Linked DNA regions of Homo sapiens: regions 1, 2, 3, 5 and 6 are each linked to region 4. Evidence: fine-mapped expression QTL. A gene starts in region 4. Each other region holds a variant in brackets. All regions are shown on one strand. Distances are from middle to middle.

Region 1 (4,079 bases), 41 kb after region 4:
GGGCCCGCAGGGAGGTGGGCACCTGGTACTCGACTGTCCCGGGCAGGCAGGTGCACAGGCTGGGCTCGGGGGCCCCCGCTGCTGGCAGGCTGAGCAGTGAGCCCAGTTCATCTGTGGCCCGCCACACGTCCAGGCTGCTGCCCGCGTAGGACGAGAGGCTGCTGGAGTAAGAGGAGTGGCTGCCAGTGGCGATGCCGCTGTCCGAGGAGCTCTGGCGGCCAACCTCCTGCAGCTGCCGCGGACGCAGCGGCTTGGGGGGTGGCCTTGAGGCACCCACCATGGCTTCCCCGGCGGCCTGGGCAGCTGCTGGTCTAGGCCCCTCCTGTGACGTGCTGGCTGACGACGAGGATTGCTCTGGCCATGCGGTGAGCCGGCTGCTGGCGCTGACGTCCAAGTGACTGGCCTCTGAGGATGAGCTGGACAGGCTGCGGTCATCCCCTGAGACAGAGCAGGAAGCCAAGGCAGTTGTGGGGGTACAGGGGTCTGGGCAGGACGTGGCTGATGCCTGGTGGACCCCCACAGGCCAGCACTCTCTGGTCTCGCCCCACCCCTTCCAGCCCCCAAGCCCCGGGGCCTACAGCAGAAACCTGGCTTCACCAACAACAACCCCTCTACCCCTCATCCACTCCTGTTCTTTGTCCGTTCCTGTCCTTCTGCCACCTGTTCTCCTACGGCCTGCGCCCCTCCCTCTCAGCACCCCTGCCACTACCTTGGTCCCCGCCTCCTCCCCTTCCCTAGAGCTCCCCACCCTCCCTGCCTAACACCCCACGCTCCATACCCAGCCATCCCGACTACCTTCCAGGGCCACCTGGGGCAGCTTGCCCTCCGCACCATCACGGCCCCAGGCTGGTCTGGACGTCCCTTCCCCAAGAACTTCCCAGGCCCTGCCAGCCTGGACACGAGGCACCAGCTGTGCCCACACACCTCGACTCGCCCCCTGCCCTCACCATGCTGGCGTCCTTGCCTCACTCCCAGTCTCCCTCCCTGCGGGGGATGAGAAGCACACCCAATGCAGATCCCAGGCTGCCTCCCGCCTGCCAGGCCAGGCCCCTCCCGTGCTCTTGGGAAAGCCACTTTCATCTCTGCTGCGTCTCTAAGCTGCCTGCTCTGCCTTCCAGGGCTCCCAAATGGAAAGCAGCTGTGAGTCACCCCCAGGAAGGCAAAAGCTTATTGCAAACCTGAGTCCCCTCCTCCTGGGGCAGGGCAGGAGGGGAGATGACCACTGTCTGCTTGGTGCCCTCTGGGGGACAAGCAGTGATCAGAGGGCACTGGCCGGACCAGCACGGCTCCTGCACTTGGCCGTGGGAACACAGGTCACCCATGCAGCCACCCTTCGGGGAGCACAGCGGCCCCTCCTGCTCTGCCAGCCCCTTCCACCACCACCTCTCCCCACAATGGCAACAGAGCCAGAGCCACCGGCAGCTGAGGAGGTGCCTCTGCTCCTGGGCAGCCAGCTCACCTGCCTTAGAGCCTTTTGTCTGGGCACAGAAGGTAAAACCAACATGCAGGGCCTTGGTCTCCCCCAGCCACAAGCTGGTGGGCAGGAAAGGATTCAAAGGCTCTCAGGGCAGAACCACC[T/C]TTCCCGTCAGCACCTCAGACCAGAGTTTAGTAAATGTGGAACCATAAGTGAAGGAAGGAATGAATGAATAGGTGGGAGAAGGAAGAAATGAATGAACAGACAGAAGGAAGGAATAAGCGGAGGGACAAGGAAAGAATGAATGAGTGAGAGAGAAATTGAGTAGGGAGAGAAGAAAGAAATGAATGAGCAGGGGAAGAAGGAAAGAAGGAAGCTGGGGTGAGCAGGAAGGAATGAACGAGCAGGGGGAGCAGAGGAAGGAAGGAACAAGCAGGCGAAGAAGGAAGGAATGAATGAGCAGGGGGAGAAGGCAGGAATGAATGAGCGGGGGGGCGGAGGAAGGAATGAATGAAGGAATGAATGAGCAAGGGGAGAAGGAATGAAAGAGCAGCGGGAGAAGGAAGGAATGAGCAGGGGGGAAGGAATGAGCAGGGGGGAAGGAATGAATGAGCAGGAGGAAGAAGGAAGGAAGGAATGGGGGGAAGGGAGAAACGAATGAACGAGCAGGGGGAGAGGGAAGGAATTAATGAGCAGGAGTGGGGAGAAGGAAGGAATGAGCCGGGGGAAAAGAAAGGAAGGAATGGGGGGGAAGGAAGGAATGAATGAGCAGGAAGAAGAAGGAAGGAATGAATGAGCAGGAGGGAAATGAAGAAATGAGCAGGGGGAGAAGGAATGAATGAGCAGGGGAAGAAGGAAGGAATGAATGAGCAGAGGAGAGAAGGAAGAAATTAATGAGCAGGAGGGTAATGAAGGAATGAAATGAGTGGGGGGGAAGGAAGGAATGAATGGGGGGAAGGCAGGAATGAATGAGCGGGGGGGCAGAGGAAGGAATGAATGAGCCGGGGGAGAAGGAAAGAAGGAATGAGCAGGAGGAAGAAGGAAGGAAGGAATGAGTGGGGGGAAATGAAGGAATGCATGAGGGGGGAAGGAAGGAAGGAATGCGGGGAAGGGAGGAATGAATGAGCAGGAGGGAAATGAACGAGCAGGCGGAGAGGGAAGGAATGAACGAGCAGGGAGAGAAGAAATGAAGGAATGAGCAGAGAGAGAAGGAAAAAACGAATGAGCAGGGGGAGAAGGAAGGAACGAATGAGCGGGGGGGTGAAGGAAAGAATGAGCAGGGGGAAAAGGAAGGAATGAATGAGCAGAGGGAGAAGAAAGGAATGAATGAGCAGGAGAGAAATGAAGGAATGAATGAGCGGGGCGGTGGGGGGGGTGAAAGAAGGACTGAATGAGCAGGGGGTGGGGGGAAGGAAGGAATGAATGAGTGTGGGGAAAAGGAAGGAATGAATGGAGGTAAGGCAAGAATGAGCCGGGGGGGCGGAGGAAGAAATGAATGAGCAAGGTGGGGAAGGAAGGAATGAATGAGCAGGGAGAAAAGGAAGGAATGAATGAGGGGGTGAAGACAGGAATGAATGAGGGGGGAAGGAATGAGTGGGGGGGGCGGAGGAAGAAATGAATGAGCAGGGTGGGGAAGGAAGGAATGAATGAGCAGGGAGAAAAGGAATGAATGGGGGTGAAGAAAGGAATGAATGAGGGGGTGAAGAAAGGAATGGGGGGAGGAAGGAATTAATGAGTAGGAGGAAGAAGGAAGGAATGAATGAGCAGGAGGAGAAGGAAGGAATGAGCAGGGTGGTGGGGAAGGAAGGATGAATGAGTAGCGGGCGGGGCGGGGAGTTGGGGGAAGAATGAATGAGCAGGAGACAGAAGGAATGAATGAATGAGCAGAGGGAGCCTGCAGCCCCCACACATGCATGGATGCCTCCTGAGCTCTCCTGCTGGAGGCTTAGCCGAGGTCCCACAGCCCAGGTCAGCCCCCGGCCCTACCTCCACTGCCCGGCCTGCCCGCATGTGAGAGGAGGCTCAGCCGCTTCTCCAGCTGTAGGGTTTCCAGGGCTTCCTGGGCCACACGCTCCTCCACAGTCGAGGGTCCCGGGGGACTTGGGTCTGTGGCAGAGAGAAGACTCGGTGGAGGAGGTGGCCACCACCGCCCACCCTCGCCCGCAGGCACCAGGCCCAGCCTGACTCAGTGGTTATCCCCCTCTGTGGAGTGGCAGTCCCCTGGGAGTCCCCGCTCCTCCCGATGCCTCATCCCAGAGGCTGGCCCTCAAACGCAGACACCCACACCACCCCTATCCAGGCCACCATGCGCCCAGCTGGGTCCCTGTGCCCGTGGATGGCCCTGCCACCTGCCCACTCACCAGGACCCCACGCCGGCCAGACCCCTCCTTCCTCATCTTCCTCACCACCGAGTTTTTCAATTTTCTGTTCCAAAAAATGACCAGCCCCTCCCCCATCCCCAGGGCCGGCCTCGCTGCAAGAGGGGCTGCCTGCCCCTCATTCACGGTGCCCATTTCTCACAGGCTCCCCTCCACCTGGGGAAATGCCCGCCCACCTTGCAGTGTCCCCACCGTTCCCTGGGGTCTCGGATGGAGACTCATACTGTGCCCAAGGCTCAGAGCATGGTGGTCTGCGGACCCTCGGCCCCACCTAGCCCCTCCCCTCA
Region 2 (4,085 bases), 21 kb after region 4:
GCTGAGATCATGCCACTGCACTCCAGCCTGGGTGACAGAGCGAGACCCTTTCAGTAAGTAAATAAATAACACCATGGGCCTATCACAGAGACCCTGAGCTTTCCACTTCAGCATGAACTGCTCCTGGCTGGTGGCTCTTAGCGTTCTTTGGTGGGATTTTCTAGTTAGTACTGAGCTGCTTTTGTGATTTGAGCATTTCTGGATGGGTGTGGAATTGGAAAGTCAGATGTGCAGGGCTTGCGCCTTTTCCTTTTGGATCGCGCGTCTCCTGACATGAGGCTGAGCTCACAGAGCTGGCCTCGAGGCGCGCTGTCCCCAGCTGATGAGACGTTTCTGTCCACAGGTGAAGAAGCATCTGCAGGACCTGTCCGGCAGGATCTCCAGAGCTCGGCACAACGAACTCTGAAGGCATTGGGGAGCCCAGCCCGGCAGGGAAGAGGCCAGCGTGAAGGACCTGGGCTCTTGGCCGTGGCATTTCCGTGGACAGCCCGCCGTCAGGGTGGCTGGGGCTGGCACGGGTGTCGAGGCAGGAAGGATTGTTTCTGGTGACTGCAGCCGCTGCCGTCGCGACACAGGGCTTGGTGGTGGTAGCATTTGGGTCTGAGATCGGCCCAGCTCTGACTGAAGGGGCTTGGCTTCCACTCAGCATCAGCGTGGCAGTCACCACCCCAGTGAGGACCTCGATGTCCAGCTGCTGTCAGGTCTGATAGTCCTCTGCTAAAACAACACGATTTACATAAAAAATCTTACACATCTGCCACCGGAAATACCATGCACAGAGTCCTTAAAAAATAGAGTGCAGTATTTAAACCACCCGCTTGTTGGCTGGTCACTAAGTGTCCTGGTGGCTGGGGCCGGAGCCAGTGCTCTTGAAGGGATCGCGTCATAGCCAGCTTCCCCTCTGGGCCCTGTGGGTCTTTGCAGCCAACCTCCTTTTCCCGTGAGACGGCCCGGCCTGATTTAAAGCCAAGAGCGCTTGAGTTGAGTTTGAGGGGAAGATGTGGAGCGTGTGGTTCTGTGGACAGTCAGAGACTGTGGCCTGGGGGCAGCGTCTTTCAACTCTCACCTCTGCAGCTCAGGGACCTCGGGAGACCTCACCAAACCTGCAGGGCCTCCGTGTCCCTAAGTGTGCTGTGTAAATGCCCCATCTCATGGGGGAGAGACAGCCACGGAGGCCTTCCTCTGACCATAGCTGATGGACTGGCGGTTGCTCAGGTCCGGCTCCGAGAATGTTCCTGTGTCTGAGCCTGGAAGAGGCTCGGGTCTGGCTCCAGGCGTGGTTCCCTTCCCGTGTCTGAGCCTGGAAGAGGCTCGGGTCCGGCTCCGAGCGTGGTTCCCTTCCCGTGTCTGAGCCTGGAAGAGGCTCGGGTCCGGCTCCGAGCGTGGTTCCCTTCCCGTGTCTGAGCCTGGAAGAGGCTCGGGTCCGGCTCCGAGCGTGGTTCCCTTCCCGTGTCTGAGCCTGGAAGAGGCTCGGGTCCGGCTCCGAGCGTGGTTCCCTTCCCGTGTCTGAGCCTGGAAGAGGCTCGGGTCCGGCTCTGGGCGTGGTTCCCTTCCCGTGTCTGAGCCTGGAAGAGGCTCGGGTCCGGCTCTGGGCGTGGTTCCCGTGTCTGAGCCTGGAAGAGGCTCGGGTCCGGGTCCAGCTCCGAGCGTGGTTCCCGTGTTTGAACCTGGAAGAGGCTCCACCAGGCGTATTGTGTTTTGACTGCAGCTGGATCTTGGCTTGACTGTTGAGATCTGCCAAACATCCGCTAAGCTATCATTTCTGAGAAAGGTCAAGGCTAGAGGCAGCATGTCGGGAGTTGGCGCATCAGGGTTGGAAGGGCCCCAGGGTACAGCATGTGGGTGCCTGTTCCTTTGTGGACTTGTGTGTGTGTGGCTGGTGGGGCGGGGGGTGGATTCTGGTTCTTTTTTTTCCCATTATCCTGAGAGCCTTAAGGTACTCAGTGTGTTGGTGAGACTCAGCCCTGTCATCTAGCAGAAGTGTGTTCCTTTTCATTGCTGTATAGTATTCCATTGCATGACTGTCCTGTGCTCTGATTTTAATGCACTTTATTGTGGGTGGATATTTGAGTTGCTTCCTTTCTGGGGTAATAACACTCACTTGGAAATAGCTGTGGTGAACACTCGTGTGGGGGTGGGGGTGGGGGCCAACTCTAGGAGCACCTAATGGATCTTACGAAGCGTGTTGTCCAAGTATAGAGATGATTCCAAAGTGGTTGGACTGTGTTTCTTTCTCCCAGCTGGGTGGAAGGAGAACACTAGTGGATTGCTGAGACTTGGTGCTCGGTATTTTTAATTATGGACAGCCTGGCTGGCGTTTTGTGGTGTCTAATTGCGGAGTAGCGTGTCTTACTGTATAATGGCCTCTTTTGTATGTGGGAGACCATGGTGTTGAGGGGAGGCAGTTACACAAAAAACCCAGATACCGAGTGTTAGTTCCATGGGTGTGGCTGGTCATGGTGCGCACTCACGAAGGATGTAGGTGATGCCCTCCACTCCGCAGAGCCAGTCCCACAGGGGTACCCATTCTGACTCCTACCACC[G/A]CAGCTCCCTACCTCCCGCCTGCCATGGGTTCCACGTGCATGGCTCTGGGCAGTCTGTGTCTTTGCGTGCGTCTGTGTATGTCTGCGTGTATCTGCTTACATTCGCTCAGCATCTGAGATTCACCCAGGCTTTTGCGTGGATCAGCGGCAGACTCCTGATTGCCGCGTGGCGGCCTGTTGTGTGGGTGTGTGCCGCGTGTGTATCCAGTCCCTACTCAGGAGTGTACGTTTCCAGTGTGGGTTGCAGTCAGGATCCATTTCTCCCTTAACTTTCAGATTATTTGCTGCATAGGCTTTTTTCTCCTAATTTGGCGCCTTTGTCAGAAATCAACTGACCTACCTGTGTGGGTCTGTTTCTGTTTGTCCTTACGCTCTTGCCATTGCCACACTTTAGACAAGGTCTTGCTCTGTCCCTCAGGCTGGAGTGCAGTAGCGTGATCTCAGCTCACTGCACCCTTGACCTCCCATACTCCAGCAATCCCCTCGCCTCAGTCTCCTGAGTAGTAGCTGCGACCACAGGCGTGTGTCACCACACCCGGCTGATTTTATTTTTTTTATTTTTATTTTTTTTGTAGAGACGGGGTTTTACTATGTTGCCCAGGCAGGTCTTGATCTGGGCTCAAGTGATGCTCCTGTCTCAGCCTCCCAAACTACTGGGATTACAGGTTGTAGGTGTGAGCCATGGTGCCCGGCCGCCACACTGTCTTGGCTACAGTTGGGTTTATAATAAACCCTGAATCGAGGTGATGTGCATTTTCCAACTCTTCTTTTTAAAGATTCTTGTGGCTGTTTATGTCCTTGGTGTTTCCATATATGTTTTACAATCAGTGTCTCAATTTCTACCAAAAAAACATGCCTTCTGGAATTTCAATAGCAATTCCCTTGAACGCATTTTTGAATACCTTTTCTGAATGTCTTGAATACATGTTGGGAAGAATCGGTGTCTTAACAGTCTCCAGTGTCCACGCGTTGACTGCCGTGTGTGACTCCAGTCGGCGTCTCAACAGTCTCCAGTGTCCACGCGTTGACTGCCGTGTGTGACTCCAGTCGGCGTCTCAGCAGTCTCCAGTGTCCACGCGTTGACTGCCGTGTGTGACTCCAGTCGGCGTCTCAGCAGTCTCCAGTGTCCACGCGTTGACTGCCGTGTGTGACTCCAGTCGGCGTCTCAGCAGTCTCCGGTGTCCACGCGTTGACTGCCGTGTGTGACTCCAGTCGGCGTCTCAACAGTCTCCGGTGTCCACGCGTTGACTGCCGTGTGTGACTCCAGTCGGCGTCTCAACAGTCTCCGGTGTCCACGCGTTGACTGCCGTGTGTGACTCCAGTCGGCGTCTCAACAGTCTCCGGTGTCCACGCGTTGACTGCCGTGTGTGACTCCAGTCGGCGTCTCAACAGTCTCCGGTGTCCACGCGTTGACTGCCGTGTGTGACTCCAGTCGGCGTCTCAACAGTCTCCGGTGTCCACGCGTTGACTGCCGTGTGTGACTCCAGTCGGCGTCTCAACAGTCTCCGGTGTCCACGCGTTGACTGCCGTGTGTGACTCCAG
Region 3 (4,085 bases), 27 kb before region 4:
CACAGGCCCTTACTTCACCTTGGCAAAATAAGTGTTTTAAATTTATTGAGACCTGTCTCAGATATCTTTTGGTTTACAACCTGATGGAGGAGTTGGCACTGATAGAAGGGTTTTGGGTTTCCAGCACCTGCCTTCATGCCTTACTTCTCGGTGGGCTCAGGACTCAGAATGGAAAAGAGTCCCAGGAGACCCCAGTAGCTCTTCAACTCTTTTACTCTCGCTGTTTTCTCTCCTTTACAGCAGACACCACTATCTGCAAAGGGTCCTGTTCGCTGCTTCTGCCTGCCAGGAAGCACAGCCTAGAGGGCAGTGTCCATGACTGTCCTGAGTAACCACTGGGTCCCCAGCATCTCAGCTTCACAGCTGTTCCGTAATGACCTTCAGATGGAGGGACGAGGCGGGTGGGTGGGGGGATGGATGGATGGATGCATGGATGGGTGGATGGGTGGATAGGTGAGTGGGTGGGTGGATGGATGAGTGGGTGCATGGGCAGGTATGTGGATAGATGGAAGTATGGGTAGATGGATGGGTGGATGGATGGGTCAATACGTGGATGGGTGGGTGGGTGAATGGGTGGATGGATGGATGAATGGATGAGTAGATGGATGCATGAATGGATGGTTGGATGGATGGTGGATGGATGGGTGAGTAGGTGGATGGACAGATGGGGAATGGATGGATAGATGAACAAATAAGTGATGGATGGGTGGGTGTATGGATGGATGGGTGGGTGGATGGGTGGGTGGGTGGATGGGTGTGTGGGTGGATGGATGGATGTGTAGATGGGTGGATGGATAAGTGGATGGATGGGTGAATGGGTGGATAAGTAGATGAATGGGTGGGTGGAGAAATACATGAGTGTGTGGATGAATAGGTTACAGAGTAAAATGCCACCACCAGAGCAGTGCAACAGCGTGCTTTGCACTCAGCTCTGCCATGGAAAAAGTGGTTCCTTCCCAGGCTCTCACCAGGCTCACATGGGCTCCAGACCCCTGCACCCCCAACCAGACTGGGGACACAGGGACTGTCTGCTCAGATCTGCATCCATGCACCTGGCCAACACCAAGTGAGTCACAGGGAACCAGGTGGCCTGAGAGAAGGACCGATGACAGATGGCCTCACCCATGTCGCCAGGAGGCTTGGGTCCCAGTCCTGTGGCCCCACCAGCCAAGAGCTTGTGGACATTCAGAATCAGGCTTGCTGGTTTAAGCCCGGGCATGCAGCACCAACATTGTCTGCCCATGGGCTCTCTGGGTCGTGCCCTGCCTGACTCAGTCCCTGCATCACCAGTGCCAGGCCAGGCACAGACAGGCTCAGTGGGGTGGGCTAAGTAGTGCTGGGGACCCAAACCAGGCATCAGAGGGATTGAGATGCCCCCAGGCTGACTCCCACTCAAGCGGGTCCCCCCGCCTCCCCCCGAGCCCATCCCCTCTGTCCACCTGCTGCCACTCTGACAGCTACAACCAACCCAGGCTCGGGGCTGCCTGGACTCTGCCTACAACTTCACAGGCTCACTCCCATGCTGTCCTTCACACCTGGAGAAGTGCCAAGGTTACCAGTGCCACAGAACAAACAGCCGCATGCACTCTGCACCCTGCTCAGCCATTGAGACAGCAGATTCTGTAGCTTTGGGCAGTTCCCACATCCTTCCAGTCCTGATCTTTCCCCTGGAAGCCAAGGAGCATTCAGCGCCTTCTCTACGTGCTCTTGGCCCCTGTCCACAACAAAGGCCACAGGTCTCTTGTTGTGGAACTATGAGTGAACCCAGCGTTCTCCCCAGGGACCCCAGCACAAAACAAGCTCTCAACACACATGAGTGAATAAAATTGTCCCAGAAAGCGGGAGACTTTACACAGTGGCTACAATGTCCCTAGTACACTGCCACAGTCCAGAAGGGAGAGAAGGGGCTGTGCACACCAGGAAGCCAGAAGCCCACATGCACCTGCACAGGGTCTGTGCATGGAGCTCCGGCAGGTCCAATCTCTTGGCCTTCAGAATAATGATGTAAATACAGGCACAAA[C/G]ATGGAGCAGGCGCCACTCAATGTGCAAACCCTCCCCCTTCTTCTGGTGAGGCCAGAAGTACCTAGGTAGGAGCAGCCCCTACCTCCGACCACCTCCCTCCCTGCAGTGGGAATAGCAGCCCAATCCCCAGGCTGCAGGGATCCACAGGCTGTGCAAGTGTGGCTGTACCCCAGCATGCCCTGGTGCGAAGCTGTGCCCAGGGAGATGTTATCTGCACCCCAGACTGCCTGTGGTGCTGCAGAGTGGTGCCGAGGACGGAGCAGGGCACACCTGGAGTCTATATCACCTGCCTTCCCTAGGGAGTCTTGGGCCCTCTCCACATTCAAGGCGAGGGGAGCAGGGGATCTCCACGAAGACCCCCTGAGCACCTCCCTTCTCTTTTTGCTGATAAATAACCCAAGGCTTAAGGGGTTTTGGAACCAAGACATGGTCACTGATGTTAGAGGAATGGCTCGCTCTCCCTCCTAGCATCCCTACCAGGTAAGGGGGGGCAATTGGTTGCTCCAAGCACCCTGGTTGCTGTAGGAAGGAGAATGGAGACATCGGGCTGAGCCCACTGGCCTCCTTCAGCGCTCGGGCTCTCCCCTGCAGACAGCCTTCCTCAGCAGCCGCACAGCTCAGGGCTTCTCCTCCCTGGGTGCCAGTAACCCCAGGTAAGCCTCTGGCTGCCCGGCAATTCCAATACCCAGAGGGAGGAGCCAACAGGGCAGGCCACGTTCTCACCAAGCCATCTGCAGAGGGGTCAGGTCCACCCTGAGTCCTCCCTTCTCAGTAACAAGCTGCTACTGTGTTTTCCATTGTCCCACAGCTGATTTGTCAGTCAGTGCAATCACAGCGAGGACAAACACTAATGCCCCTCCTGAGACCTCTCTTCCGGCTGATGGTGTGGACCTTGACTCCACAGCAGGTGTCTGCAGGCCCTCCAGCTGGCCCTCGGTAGCCTGGAGTGGCTCATCCTGGACAGACTCACCGCTATGACGCAGGGGGAACTGCCAGGAGTCCCTGAGCGAGGTGATCTGAGAAATGCCATGGCAGTGTTCTAAGCCAGCAGCCTGGCTTACTCACAACCTCTCTGCTGTGTGACCTTGAGCAAGTGCCTTAACCTCTCTGAGCCTCAGCTTGCCCCTCTGTTAAAGAATGATCATATATGACACCTAACAACGTTATGTGGAGTATCAGCAACAAGGAATCCACTGCAGCCAGTGTTGCAGGTGCAACTGGCTGGGGCTGGTGTCACGGGTGGTAAAAGAATTTACCGAGACAGTCGTGGGTAAAGAAAGTCTGAAGACACCTTGCAAGAGAACAGCAGGCAGCATGGCAGAGAGAAGGCCACCTCCCCAGGGGCAGGGGCCAGGGGGAAGTTTGATAGGGTCACACTGGAGAGGCGACATGCAGACAGGGTCATGCTGGAGAGGCCACATGCAAACAGAGTCACACTGGAGAGGCCACATGTGGATACAGTCATGCTGGAGAGGCGACATGCAGACAGGGTCACTCTGGAGAGGCCACACGCAGACAGGGTCACGCTGGAGAGGCCCCACGCAGACAGGGTCACGCTGGAGAGGCCCCACGCAGACAGGGTCACGCTGGAGAGGCCCCACGCAGACAGGGTCACGCAGGAGAGGCCCCACGCAGACAGGGTCACGCTGGAGAGGCCCCACGCAGACAGGGTCACGCTGGAGAGGCCCCACGCAGACAGGGTCACGCTGGAGAGGCCCCACGCAGACAGGGTCACGCTGGAGAGGCCCCACGCAGACAGCATCACGCTGGAGAGGCCACATGCAGACAGGGTCACTCTGGAGAGGCCACATGCAGACAGGGTCACTCTGGAGAGGCCACATGCAGACAGGGTCATGCTGGAGAGGCTACATGTGGAAACGGTCACACTGGAGAGGCGACATGCAAACAGGGTCACGCTGGAGAGGCCACATGCAGACAGGGTCACGCTGGAGAGGCCCCATGCAGACAGGGTCATGCTGCTGGAGCTAACGTGCAGAGTGAGGTATTTGGTAACATGAGGTTGTGCAAGCGGGCTGCTTGTGGTTAGCCATTTCTTAGAACAA
Region 4 (4,085 bases):
CGTCGCATTCTCCCTCCTCCCCCAGCCCAGGTATCCTCCATCCTTTAGCCATCCCCTGACTTTCTTTAGTTTCATTGCCTGTGTATGCAGCCACGAATAAAATATTGCTTAGTTATCTGGGAAACCGGGCTGTATAGGAAAAGGGCTCTTAGAACCCCACACCACTGTCAGATGCAGGATCCCAGAAGACTCTGCTCCCAGTCCAGCTTCCAATTCCTGTGGGTTTATAACGGGCCTTTCTAGAGACACTGGGGGCAGGATTCACAGAGCTGGAACATTTGCAGTTAGGACCACATTCCAGATGACCAACAGGGACATGCTTGGGGGGGATAGGCCAATTTGGACTATCCCCTTCTAAGCCCACCAAGACCTACCTGTAGCTCTCAGGAGTGGGGTCAGGGCAAAACATGTATGTGGGGTAAAACAGGTGACCTCTGATTCTAGGCACCAGGAGATGGAGAGAAGAGCAGGAACGAGGGAACACAAGGGGAAGGCAGGCACAGGTGAGAATCTAGGCCAGGCTCACCTGGCCATTCTGTCCTGAGGCTTAAAAACATGCAATGATGGCAATGACAGCATTTGATCTGTCTCTGGAGTCACTTCGCATGAGGTCATTCTCCCTCCACCACCCTCCTGGGGGATTCCTTTACCTCCTCTCCCCCATACATCCCATATTGGGAACTTGTGCTTCCAGCTAAGATGCAGTAACAGACTGAATTTACCCTCTTGCCTGAAACAACTCAACAGCTGGAAAAAAAGAAATGAAACGATGGCTCTGAAAATACTAGAAAAGCAGCACAGGACAGAAGCAGATCACCTTGATTCCAGGGACCTGAAATCTTCTCTGGAACAACACAAGATACAATTTAAATGTAAATTAGGGTAGGCCCAGTGGCCCACGCCTGTAATCCCAGCACTTTGGGGGACCAAGACGGGAGGGTTGCTTGAGCCCAGGAGTTGGAGAACAGCCTGGACAACATAGGGAGACCTAATTTCTACCAAAAAATTTCAAAAATTAGCTGGGCGTGGTGACACGCACCTATAGTTCCAGCTACTTGGGAGGCTGAGGCAGGAGGATCGCTTTAGCCCAGGAGGTCGAGGCTGCAGTGAGCCATGATCATGCCACTGCACTCCAGCCTCGATGACAGAGACCCTATCCCCCCACGCAAAAAAAGGAAATGAATTAACATTAATTCCTCTCAAGATGCCCAGGCTCTATTCACCCCCTTTGTCATTGTCCCTCCAGTTGGAAATTCCTCCCTCCCCCCGCAAAATCCCGCCCACCCTTGGAGGCCTTTTCAGATCATTCTTGCCAGATGAGCTCCCCTTGTCCCTTCTCTGAGCCCAAAGGGGCCCAGCTGCTGTCTGTCTCCCTCCTTCCCCTTGTTTCCCGCGCTACCTCCAGGGCACTTCCCAACTCACTGGCCAAGCCCCCAACGAGCGGTCTATGCTAACTTTGGCTCTGTGAATTTCCTAGAGTGTCATGGGTTGGGGAAAAGCGCGCGAAGTCCTGCCTTGCAGCAGGCGCGAGAGCAGGCGCTTGGGACGCGGGTTGGGGCAGGGGCCCCGGGACGTAGGGGGACGTCTGCGCGGCCCTGCGTCCCCGGGACAACCTGGCCTGGGCTTACCCACGGCCAGGCGCTCCGCGGAGGGCAGAAGCGGGCTGGGCCAGGCTCCTCAGCGCCAGGCCCGGGCCGCAGTGCCAACCCCGCAACGGCACTGGACATGCAAGAGTCGGCGTCAGTGCGCGTGAAGCCGGAGCATTATCAGGCTCAGCCAAACGCGGCCCGGTTCTTGGGCTTTCCGCTCTTTCTGTGGGGCAGAGAGGGAAAGAGGCCTCGAGTCGTGCGGGCTCCAGGCTCCGGGCTCTGGGTGAGGCCTGATCCCTGCTCCCACCCGGCCACCCTCATTCTCCAGTTGTATCCCCTGCCAGAGTCTGCAGCCTCGGGCCGCGGCGTGGTTGCCTGGGAAACGCTTGCGCCTGCGCAGGGCTTCCTAGGCGCTGGAGTCCGCCGGCGGCCTCGCCGCTGCCGGCCGCTCACGGAGGAACTACAATTCCCAGGAGACCGCGCGGTGGGTGGGGGCGGGGTAGTGGGCGGGGCATCGGCAGGCTAGGTTTTCTCCGCGCAGCGCCAGTCGCAGAGGAAGATGGCGCCGCGGAGGGTCAGGTCGTTTCTGCGCGGGCTCCCGGCGCTGCTACTGCTGCTGCTCTTCCTCGGGCCCTGGCCCGCTGCGAGCCACGGCGGCAAGTACTCGCGGGAGAAGAACCAGCCCAAGCCGTCCCCGAAACGCGAGTCCGGAGAGGAGTTCCGCATGGAGAAGTTGAACCAGCTGTGGGAGAAGGCCCAGCGAGTGAGCGCGGCCCGCGGTCGGTGGAGCGGGGCCTGGGGGCGGGGGCCGTGGTTGGGGTCGTTGGAGCGGGGCCCAGGGGTCGGAGGCGGAGGGGGGCGCAGCCGGGGCACCTGTGCCCTACGCGCCCTGTCCTTGGCACAGCCTCCCCCAAGTGTCAGGTGGGGCGCCCCGACCCCTTCTGCAGCAGGAAAGGTACCCGTGCCGGCGACGACGCCGTGTGAAGCAGGTGGCGGCCGGCACCCCGAGGGTCAGTGTCGCCCTCCCCAGCCTGGGCGGCCTGCTGACCCGAGCGTAGGGACAGAACCAGGCTAGATCACAGGTCTCCTGCCTCCCGAGCCTTTGCCTGTTCCCTCAACCTTATCTCCCTATGTGGGGAAACAAGAAAAACAAAATGTTGGGTAGAAAGACGTGTCCAGGGACAGAAGGAATCCCAGTAGCAAGCCCGTGCTTGTTCATTTGAGCGAGAAATGAGGAGGTGAGGAGATGGGATCGGTTTAGAGCACATAAAACGCGACCTTGGGAATGCTGAAAGTCAGTCTTAACAGGGCGCTCACCTGACCTCTCCTTCATTTGAGAGATGAGGGTACGGAGGCCCCGAGGGGAAAGGGCACCCCCAAGGTGGCTCGGCCGGTGGGGCCCCCCGGGACAACAGCTTCCTAATTGGTGCGTGACCCTGGGCCAGCTGCTCTCTTCATTAAGATACGGTTGCTTCATTTGTTAGGTGTTCCTGAAAACACCTGAAATGGGTGTTTTCGAACTATGCCGACCATCTGGGCCTCATTATCTCATCTCAAATGCAGGAGTCAGATTAGATCTCTGTCTCAATAGTCCAGTTTTAAGCATTCCTGAGTCTTTGAGAGGGAAAGTAAGTGATTTGCAGAATAAGAAGGAACTTTTGGAACGAAAAGGGAGAGGAGAAACAGGTGGGGGACAGACAGACGACAGACGGTTATAAGACTGCGTGGGGATGGGGATTGACGCCTGGGCATCAGCTCCACAGGCCCTTCCTGAACTGCTCCTGGGACCAGCAGTCAAGCCCCAGGCGTAATGTTCAGCCTGCGGAGGTGGGAGGTGGGAGAACGCTCTGGGCTGGAGCGGCAGGGCGGCTTCTTGGAGGAAGGGATTCTGGAGGGGCTGGGGACACGGCTGGGTTTGGATGTGTTGATGGCCTCCCAGCAGCAGGGAACAGGTGTGACCAGGAGCAGCCGGGATGCAGTGCTGCCTCCCCGTGCCCACTGCACTGGGCATCTGTTGAGTGGGTGGAGTCCCCCCTCCCCATGAGGAATGGGGAGCCCGAAATAGACTCCCTGACCGATTGGAGGTGGCGCTGAGGAAGTGCACTCGGACCCAGGAACCCCAGCGGCTCCCTTTTGGGTGCTGGCCCAAGTCTTCCACCTGCTCTGCAGGGCCGCCCTGGTGCGCTCCACCTTACCTCCAGCCACCTCCAGCTGGTCCTCTGTCTTTGTCAGCCCAGGCCTCCTGCAGCAATACACCTGCCCTCAGGCTGCCCCTGCACTGGTCCAGCTACCCTCGGGCTGCCCCTGCACTGTCCCCCGGTGCTGGGTGCTCGCCTGACCAGTTTCAGTCTTGGGTTGGGTCATGTCTCCTAAACCTCCCTGAGGTTCACTGGGCACCATGGTAGGGCGAGCTGCTCACCTCCACTTTGGACTGAGCCTTGGACTAGATGATCTTTCTGGTCCCTTTAAGTCCTGAAGTTCTAGTTGTGTGGGCAA
Region 5 (4,085 bases), 510 kb before region 4:
TACCATGGGCCTAATTACAGTCACTGCAATGGCCACCACTGCCGGAATGGCATTACACCAGTCTACTCAAACAGCTCATTTTGTTAATGATTGGCAAGCCAATTCCACCCAAATGTGGAATTCTCAACAAGGCATCGATCAAAAATTGGCAAATCAAATTAATGATTTAAGACACTCTGTTATTTGGCTTGGAGATCGGGTAGTGAGTCTAGAACATCGCATGCAAATGCACTGCGATTGGAATACTTTGGATTTCTGCATCACCCCGTATTCCTATATCAAGACTGATCATTCATGGGGAAATGGTCAAAGGACACCTTCTAGGTAGAAAAGATAATTTATCACTGGACACAACTAAATTAAAAAAACAAATTTTTGAATCCTCCCAAGCTCACTTATCCATCATGCCTGGAGCTCAGACGTTAGATCAGGTGGCAGAAAATCTTTATGGATTAAACCCCACAACTTGGATTAAGTCTATTGGGGGCTCCACTATAGTAAATTTTGGAATTATGTTTCTCTGCTTAATCGGCTTGCTTTTAGTGTGCCGTACCAGTCAAATAATACTGTGTCAAAATCGAGAGAATGAACAAGCCTTCATCGCCATGGAACATTTACATAAAAAGAAAGGGAGAGATGTTGCGGGAAGTCAGGGACCCCAAACGGAGGGACCGGCTGAAGCCATGACAGAAGAACGTGGATTATGAAGATTTTATGGACATTTATTAGTTCCCCAAATTAATACTTTTGTAATTTCTTATGCCTGTGTTTACTGCAATCTCTAAACATAAATTTTGAAGATTTTATGGACACTTATCACTTCCCCAATCAATACCCTTGTGATTTCCTATGCCTGTCATTACTTTAATCTCTTAATCCTGTCAGCCGAGAAGGATGTATATCGTCTCAGGACCTGTAATAATTGCGTTAAGTACACAAATTGTACAGCATGTGTGTTTGAGCAATATGAAATGTGGGCACCCTGAAAAAAGAACAGGATCACAGCAATTGTTTAGGGAATAAGAGAGATAACCTTAAACTCTGACCACCGGCGAGCCGGGCAGAACAGAACCATATTTCTCTTTTTTCAAAAGCAAATGGGAGAAATATCATTGAATTCCTTTTCTCAGCATGGAACGCCCCTGAGAAAGAGAATGCGCACCTAGGGGTAGGTCTCTGAACTGGCCCCGTGGGGCGTACCTGTCTCCTATGGTCGAGATTGCAGAGGTGAAATAAACTCCAGTCTCCCATAGCACTCCCAGGCTTATTAGGAAGAGAAAATTCACACCTAATAAACTTTGGTCAGACAGGTTGATCTCAAAACCCTGTCTCCTGATAAGATGTTATCAACGACAATGGTGCCAAAACTTCATTAACAATTTTAATTTCACTTCCGTCCTGTGGTCCTGTGATCTTGCCCTGTCTCCACTTGCCTTGTGATATTCTATTACTCTGTTAAGTACTTGATGTCTGTCACCCACACCTATTTGTATACTCCCTCCCCTTTTGAAACTCCCTATTAAAAACTTGCTGGTTTTTGTGGCTTGTGGGGCATCACAGATCCTACCAATGTGTGATGTCTCCCCCAGA[C/T]GCCCAGCTTTAAAATTTCTCTCTTTTGTACTCTGTCCTTTTATTTCTCAAGCCAGTCGACGCTTAGGAAAATAGAAAAGAACCTACCTGATTATCAGGGCAGGTCCCCCGATAGTGTTGGGTGGTGGTAATGCATTGATGAAGATGGCAGGCATGCCTCTGCCCTCCAGGAGTTTCTAGGATACAGAGGGGGACAAATAAAAAATAAGTAAATCCATGAAAGAAGTATAGGTGGAACCTGCACCCAATATTTCAATGTAGGTTCTTTCTATTTTCCCTAAGTGTCAGCCAGCTGAGAAATAGAGACACTACAAAGAGAGGAATTTTACAGCTGGGCTGCTGGGGGTGACATTACACATCAGTAGGACCGTGATTCCCCCTGAGTCTCAGATGAGCAAGTTTTTATTAAGGGCTTCAAAAGGGGAGGGTGTGTAAGAACAGGGAGTATGTACAAAGGTCACATGCTTCAAAGGGTAAAAAGCAGAACTACTACTAAGGGTCTAACAAAGATCACATGCTTCTGAGGGAACAGGACAAAGGGCAAAAGCAGAACTACTGATAAGTGTCCAGCAAAGATCACAAAGCAAAGGGCAAAAGCAGAACCACTGATAAGGGTCTATGTTCATTCACGCATGTATTGTCTTGATAAACATCTTAAACAACAGAAAACAGGGTTCAAGAGCAGAGAACCAGTCTGACCACAGGTATATCAGGGCGGAGTTTTTCTCCACCCTAGTAAGCCTTTGGGTACTGCAGGAGACCAGGGCGTATCTCAGTCCTTATCTCAACCGCATAAGACAGATATTCCCAGAGCGGCCATTTATAGACCTTCCCCCAGGAATGCATTCCTTTCCCAGGGTATTACTATTAATATTCCTTGCTAGGAAAAGAATTTAGCGATATCTCTCCTACTTGCACATCCGTTTATAGACTCTGCAAGAAGAAACATATGGCTCTTTTTGCCCAACCCAGCAGGCAGTCAGACCTTATGGTTGTCTTCCTTTGTTCCCTAAAAATTGCTGTTATTCTCTTCTTTTTCAAGGTGCACTGATTTCATATTGTTGAAACACACGTTTTACAATCAATTTGTACAGTTAACACAATTATCACAGTGGTCCTGAGGTGATGTACATCCTTAGCTTATGAATATAACAGAATTAAGAGATTAAAGACAGGCATAACAAATTATAAAAGTATTATTTGGGAACTGATAAATGTCCATGAAATCTTCACCATTTATGTTCCTCTGCCATGGCTCCAGCCAGTCCCTCTCCATTTGGGGTCCCTGACTTCCCACAACAAGAAACAATAAGAGGTTAAGGTGGAGAAGAGCAGGGAAGTCCACTTTATAAAGGGGTCAGGAAAGAGCTGTCTGTGGAAGCACCATTTTAGCTGAGACCTAAAGGATGGTCTAATCTGGGGAGGTGCAGAGGAAAATCATTCCAGGCTGAAGCAGTAAGTGCAAAGGCCCTGTTGTGGAAAAAGGTTTGAAAGTCCAAGAAAACAAAAGGAGGCCATAGTGGCTGAAATAGAGTAGGCCAAGGGCAGGAGATAGGAGAGGGCTGGAGAGGTGGCAGGAACAGGCAGAAGACTCGGGGTCTCGATTTTATTCTATGTACCATGGGCAGGAAAGGCAGGGATGAGACTCAATGGACACCTTAAGATCACTGAAGCTGCCAGGTAGGAAATGGATTGCTGAGCATGGAGAGCAGGTGCAGAGTACCAGTTAAGACCAGTTAGGAGGCTGCTGTAGCCCAGCTGAGATAGTGGTGTCCTAGGCAAAGATAATGACAGTGAAGCTAGAGAGAGTGGACAAGTTGGATAAAGTTTAGAATCACAGGACTTGCTGACTGGAGAAGAGAGCAAAAGCAGAGTTAGCACAACACATGAGTTATGACCACCTTGAGCAGCTCAGCAGGGGGTGGTGCCATTTGCAGAACAGAGATGGCATGAACAGAACCCATGGAGAAGGAGGAGGAAAAAGAGAGTTTGGCTTTGGGTTTTCTTTAAGACATGGTCTCTGGCTGTGTCACCCAGGCTGGAGTGCACTGGTGCAATCATAGCTCTTTGCAGCCTCGAACTCCTGGGCTCAAGTGATCCTCCTGCCTCAGCCTGCCATGTAGCAGGACTACAGATCCTACAGATGCACATCACCATGCCTAGCTTTTTTTTTTTTTTTTTTTTTTTTTTTTTTTTTTTTTTTTTTTTTTTGTAGATAGGGAGTCTCACTGTGTTTTCAAGGCTGGCTTCAAACTCCTGGCCTCAAGTAATCCTCCCACCTCAGCCTCCCATAGCACTGGGATTACAGCCATCACCTACCAATCCAAGCCATGAGTTTGGCTTTGGATGTAACAAGGTTGAGGTGTTCACGAGTTGACAAATGGAAAAAACAAAAAAGAAGTTGAGTGTTGGCCGGGCGCGGTGGCTCACGCCTGTAGTCCCAGCACTTTGGGAGGCCGAGGCGGGTGGATCATGAGGTCAGGAGATCGAGACCA
Region 6 (4,085 bases), 35 kb after region 4:
CTCACTGTCCTCCGGGGTCACCCCCACCTGCTGCAGGCTCCAGGGACCCCCTCCTCTCCTGCACACAGGCCCACGCTCCCTCTGCATCCCCTCCAGGACACCCAGGTGCCCCACACCCTCTCCCCCCTCATAGGAGCTACTCCCTTCCCCCGACCCCCTTCCTAATAGCTGATGGTTCTGTCTGCACACCCCATTGGTGCTGGGGAGGGCAGAGCAGGAGCAGGATAGGAGGGGACCCCACAGGCCCGGCTGGGTGGGACTTGAGGCAGGCTCCCACCTTAGGGGGTTGGACGCACACCGGCCCCTCCTCTGCAGGCCTGAGGGCTCCGCACCGTGGGCACCCAGGTTCTACAGGAAGGACCCCGTTCTCCAGTGCCTCCTCCCATTCTTGTCATCAGGACCTCGTGAGGGAACGCACAGCCACGTGAGGCAGGGGAGGTGACAGCAAGTCCCCCCCCATTCCCTGAGCCAGTGGCTGGGAGACACAGCCAAGCCCCACCCACAGTGACCTCCCCACCCCCAGCACACTCCGAGCCCTCAGAATTCAGGTGGGGGCTGGGATCCAGCGGGTGACAGCCCTGCAGGGTCGGCCTCCCTGAAACACCTGCCTGTCCAGGGGAGGGGCCTGACTCAAGGCTGGGCCTCCCTGCCCCAGGGATGCATCCTCAGCAGACCAGGTTCTCCTGTGGCCACCCGCTGCCCGGCACCTGCCGCAGACATCCACTCTGCCTGGCTCCTCTCACCCTTGTCCCCGTCACTCCCTGCAGCAGGGCTAGGGGTGAGGAACTTTCACTTGCTTGCTCCCAGTGGGGAAACTGAGGCCAGGGAGACCTGACTCGCTGATTCTGCAGGCAGCAGCTGGGACAGAGCGAGATGGAGCCCAGGTCGACGAGGGTTCGCTCACCTGATTCCATGAACTAAAGCAACCAACACAATTCTGCCCCAACCCTGCCTGGCCCTGAGGCCCTGGGGAGACCCCCCTCCTGCAAATGTGTGGTCCTAGAGGGCTGGTCCCCTCGGAATGCCAGGACCCCTTCATCGAGATGAGCCACAGAACATAGCGGCCAAGTTCTGGTGCCCAGGCAGGCACCTGGGCCAGCAGGGACAGGGCCAGCAGGGCCAGCTGCCTAGAGGAGGGGGCATGGCTGAGGGGCTAGGCCAAGAGGGGGTGGTGGGAGAGGCAGGTGGGGTGAGGGCCTGGGGAGAGCTGAGGGAGCGCCGGGGCCTGGCGTCTGGAAAGGGGGCCTTGAAGCCAAGGGGCAGGGCCGGGGCTTGCCCACGGTGGGGCTGGACACCCCCCTGCAGCCTGGTACCTCGTTTTAGGATTGCATCCGTTCTTCCAAGTTTGCTCCCAAGGTTGGGCGGTGAGGGGTGAGGGTGGAAGCAGGAAGGAGCATGAGGCCTGACTGCAGGGAAAGGGGACGAATGTTCCCAACACCACCCGGAGTCACACGGGGGCTGTAAGCAGCGCTGGGCCAGCAGTGTGTCCGTATCTGTATCTCCCCCAAGGCCACTGGCTCCAGGGCCCTCAGTGCTCCTCCTCCCGTCCCCTCCTTGGGACTTGGATTTTGCTTCGGCTTCTGTGAGCATCGCTTCCAGTACCTCGGATACTCTTTCAGTGAAGCAGCAACCGGGAATCGGCTGGCCCTTCTGCACTCTCCTCCCAGACCCCGCCCTGGGCTGGCAGCCCGACGCTACCACTTGGGCCTGGCTCATCTCTGTCCCATGACAGACCCCAGGCGCCCCTCCTGAGCCCCCGGCCTCTGTGGAAAAGATTCACATCCTCCAGCAGATACTGGGCCTGTCCCCTTGATCCCCACACCTGTGTCCCAGGGCACCCCTGTCTGGGTAAAAGACATCTGAAGGGTACGGGTGGCCTCGGGGAGGCAACAGCAGGCTGCCCAGGAGGACCCTTGGGGCAGGGCTGGCCCCACCACCTCTGGTCTGGTGGCTGCCTCAGCACACTGGACTGCAGGGATCGGTGTCCAGCCCAGGGCCAAGGCAGACTGGTGGGGGCTTTCCCAAGCTGCCCCTGCCTGCCTGTGGCTCCGCCCCCATCCCTGACTGTCCCCTCCAGGCCTGCCTGGGCGCCTCCCCCACCCTGGGTGTCCTCTCCAGGCCTGCCTGGACCCCGCCCCCCTGTAGGTGCCACCTGCCTGGGAAGAAGGGATTGAGGAATCCAAGGTTTAGCCCGCAGTGGCTCCTACTCCACAAGGAAACAGGCACAGAACTGGCCCTGATGCCACCCATCTACCCCAGGCCAGCCGTCCTCATCTCCAGCCTCTCAGCCCTGCCCAACCTTCAGCAGGGCTCTGTCCCCAGTGACTGCCAGGCTTCTCTAGGGAGACCCTGGGGATCCGTACCTTCCCACTGCCTCCCTGCCTGGCCC[T/G]CCCTCCCAACCTGGCCCCAAAACTGCACCTGCCAGGGCACCAATGCCCTGCCCTTCGCCGAGTCGCTCACCACCAGCCCAGCCTCCACAGGCCCCCACCGCTGTCTGAGGACACAGCCCCTCCTCCCTGAGCTGGGGCTCCTGGACCCCAACCCTGACTGCCTTCCTGCCATGCCCCCTCCCAGGAACAGGTCCACACTCAGGGCTTGGGGACCCGTGGACCCCAGTCTGTGTCTCCCAACCTTCAGTCCATCCTCCAGCAGCCTGCCCTCTACCCACTGCCCTGCTGTCCACACCTGGGCTGGGACTCACCCCCACTGCCCACTGCCACCCAGCAACCACTGTCAACTGTCACCCAACACCCACTGCCACCCAACATCCACTGTCAGCCAACAACCACTTTCACCACATTGCCCACATTCCCTGCTGGCAGTGGGCCCCCCACCCTCCCCCCTCCCCATCTAGTCAAACTCTGGCTGCCATCTGCGCCCACCCAGACTCCCGCCTTCCTGTCCCCGAGCTCTGGGGGACTGGCTCCAGGTGCCTACCTGAATGTGCTGTCGCAGGTCCTGGGGCTGAGGCTGCCGCTCCCTAGACCAAAGAGAACCTGGGTCAGTGCATCCTTCAGTCTTCCCCTCATCCTGTGCCCGGGGGGCCACCGAGAACAAGGACACTACCCCCCAAGAGTGACACAGGCTGGGGGACCTGGGTCACCTGCAGGGAGTCCAGCCCGCCATACCTGATGCCTTCTCTCCAGGGCCCTTTGCCCCACAGCCCCCAGATCTCCGGGCCACCCACTGCCTTGACCACCCAGCCTGGTGGTAGCCCCCATAACCACCCATGGGGGAGCTGGAGGCCTCGGCATCTGGGGAGGGGGCGGTTCCCAGCCCTGAGGCCCAGTCCAGCCCCACTATTTTGCTATTAGAGCTTTATCGGAGGAGTACCACGCCCATGCAAGGTAGTGTCTGGGCTCCGACCTCAGAGCTGAGCGGCTGCTCCGAGGGTGCCTGTGATTTCCTTTCCCGTCCTTGAGGGTGTGGGCCCTGCTCTCTGCAGCTGGTGGGGAAGGCTCCGCAGGGGGGTGCCCCTGGAAAATGCCCCACTGGGAGGCCCCAGATGAGATGAGCAAAGTTCCCTGACACTGCAGGCGACCTTCTCCTGGGCCTCTGAAGTGGGCCGTGCCTAACGGGGTGCCCCAAGTCCCTGGAGGAGCCTATGGTGGGGTCTGAAGGGCGCTTGCGGGAGGGACAGCGGCCCACGGCTGAGCAGAGGCTTCCTGCCCACCTCCAGCCCAGATGAGCAGAAGCGGGGCCAGCCCAAGACAATGTCCCACATGGGTTCCGGCAGCCGGCAGCTAGAAAGAAGGCGCAGCACCCTCCTGTTCTGAGGGGCCTCGTGGGTGGGGGCTGGGAGGCCGGAAATGGGGGCTCAGCACCTAGCACTGGTGCAGGCCAGACTCAAGGGCAGACAGTCACAGGGCTGGGACCCTCACACGAGGCCCCCTGAGCAAACTGAGCTGGTCTAGACTTTGAGAACCTTTGACAACAGGCCGACACCCCCTGAGCTCATCACATACACAGGCTCCTGAGAGGGCCCCTCCCCAGCTGCTCCCGGTGGGGGCAGGCGGGTAGGTGTGGATGGTGCAGAGCCCGAACCAGCGAAGGTCCACCCTGTCCCCTGCCTGGCCAGGCCCAGG

Alleles and levels. Alleles are on the strand shown, and positions count from the first base shown. SD is a standard deviation of normalised expression in the study named. Not every link is listed here.
For the expression in skeletal muscle of the gene that starts at base 2,139 in region 4, allele A in region 2 goes with a lower level than allele G (small effect, 0.38 SD a copy in GTEx).
With allele G in place of T in region 6, the expression in pancreas of the gene that starts at base 2,139 in region 4 is higher (small effect, 0.30 SD a copy in GTEx).

Evidence for each region.
Region 1: its variant is fine-mapped to the expression of LRPAP1 in pancreas (GTEx, PIP 0.93).
Region 2: its variant is fine-mapped to the expression of LRPAP1 in skeletal muscle (GTEx, PIP above 0.99).
Region 3: its variant is fine-mapped to the expression of LRPAP1 in whole blood (TOPMed, PIP above 0.99).
Region 5: its variant is fine-mapped to the expression of LRPAP1 in unexposed skin (GTEx, PIP 0.99).
Region 6: its variant is fine-mapped to the expression of LRPAP1 in pancreas (GTEx, PIP 0.95).

What each region holds. Positions count from the first base shown.
Region 1 is chr4:3,489,118-3,493,196 of GRCh38, reverse strand. It overlaps DOK7 (docking protein 7), which reads right to left. Exons shown (of 7, transcript NM_173660.5): 6 at 3,401-3,520; 7 at 1-438. Among named protein-coding and RNA genes, the nearest start is that of DOK7, 28 kb to the right of the region's middle. RefSeq lists an enhancer at 74-595 and a silencer at 3,376-3,485. The variant T/C (reference allele first, on the strand shown) is at 1,579.
Region 2 is chr4:3,509,295-3,513,379 of GRCh38, reverse strand. It overlaps LRPAP1 (LDL receptor related protein associated protein 1), which reads left to right. Exons shown (of 8, transcript NM_002337.4): 8 at 344-4,085. The coding sequence ends at 406. Among named protein-coding and RNA genes, the nearest start is that of LRPAP1, 21 kb to the left of the region's middle. RefSeq lists an enhancer at 3,332-4,085. The variant G/A (reference allele first, on the strand shown) is at 2,544.
Region 3 is chr4:3,557,197-3,561,281 of GRCh38, reverse strand. No RefSeq gene overlaps it. Among named protein-coding and RNA genes, the nearest start is that of LINC00955, 18 kb to the left of the region's middle. The variant C/G (reference allele first, on the strand shown) is at 2,022.
Region 4 is chr4:3,530,476-3,534,560 of GRCh38, reverse strand. It overlaps LRPAP1 (LDL receptor related protein associated protein 1), which reads left to right and starts at 2,139. Exons shown (of 8, transcript NM_002337.4): 1 at 2,139-2,352. The coding sequence starts at 2,149. RefSeq lists silencers at 1,900-1,959, 2,400-2,649 and an enhancer at 2,150-2,359.
Region 5 is chr4:4,039,742-4,043,826 of GRCh38, reverse strand. LOC101928217 (a long non-coding RNA gene) reads right to left here. Exons shown (of 5, transcript XR_001741554.2): 4 at 1,678-1,766. Among named protein-coding and RNA genes, the nearest start is that of OTOP1, 190 kb to the left of the region's middle. The variant C/T (reference allele first, on the strand shown) is at 1,591.
Region 6 is chr4:3,495,715-3,499,799 of GRCh38, reverse strand. It overlaps a transcript of DOK7 not described here. Among named protein-coding and RNA genes, the nearest start is that of DOK7, 34 kb to the right of the region's middle. The variant T/G (reference allele first, on the strand shown) is at 2,390.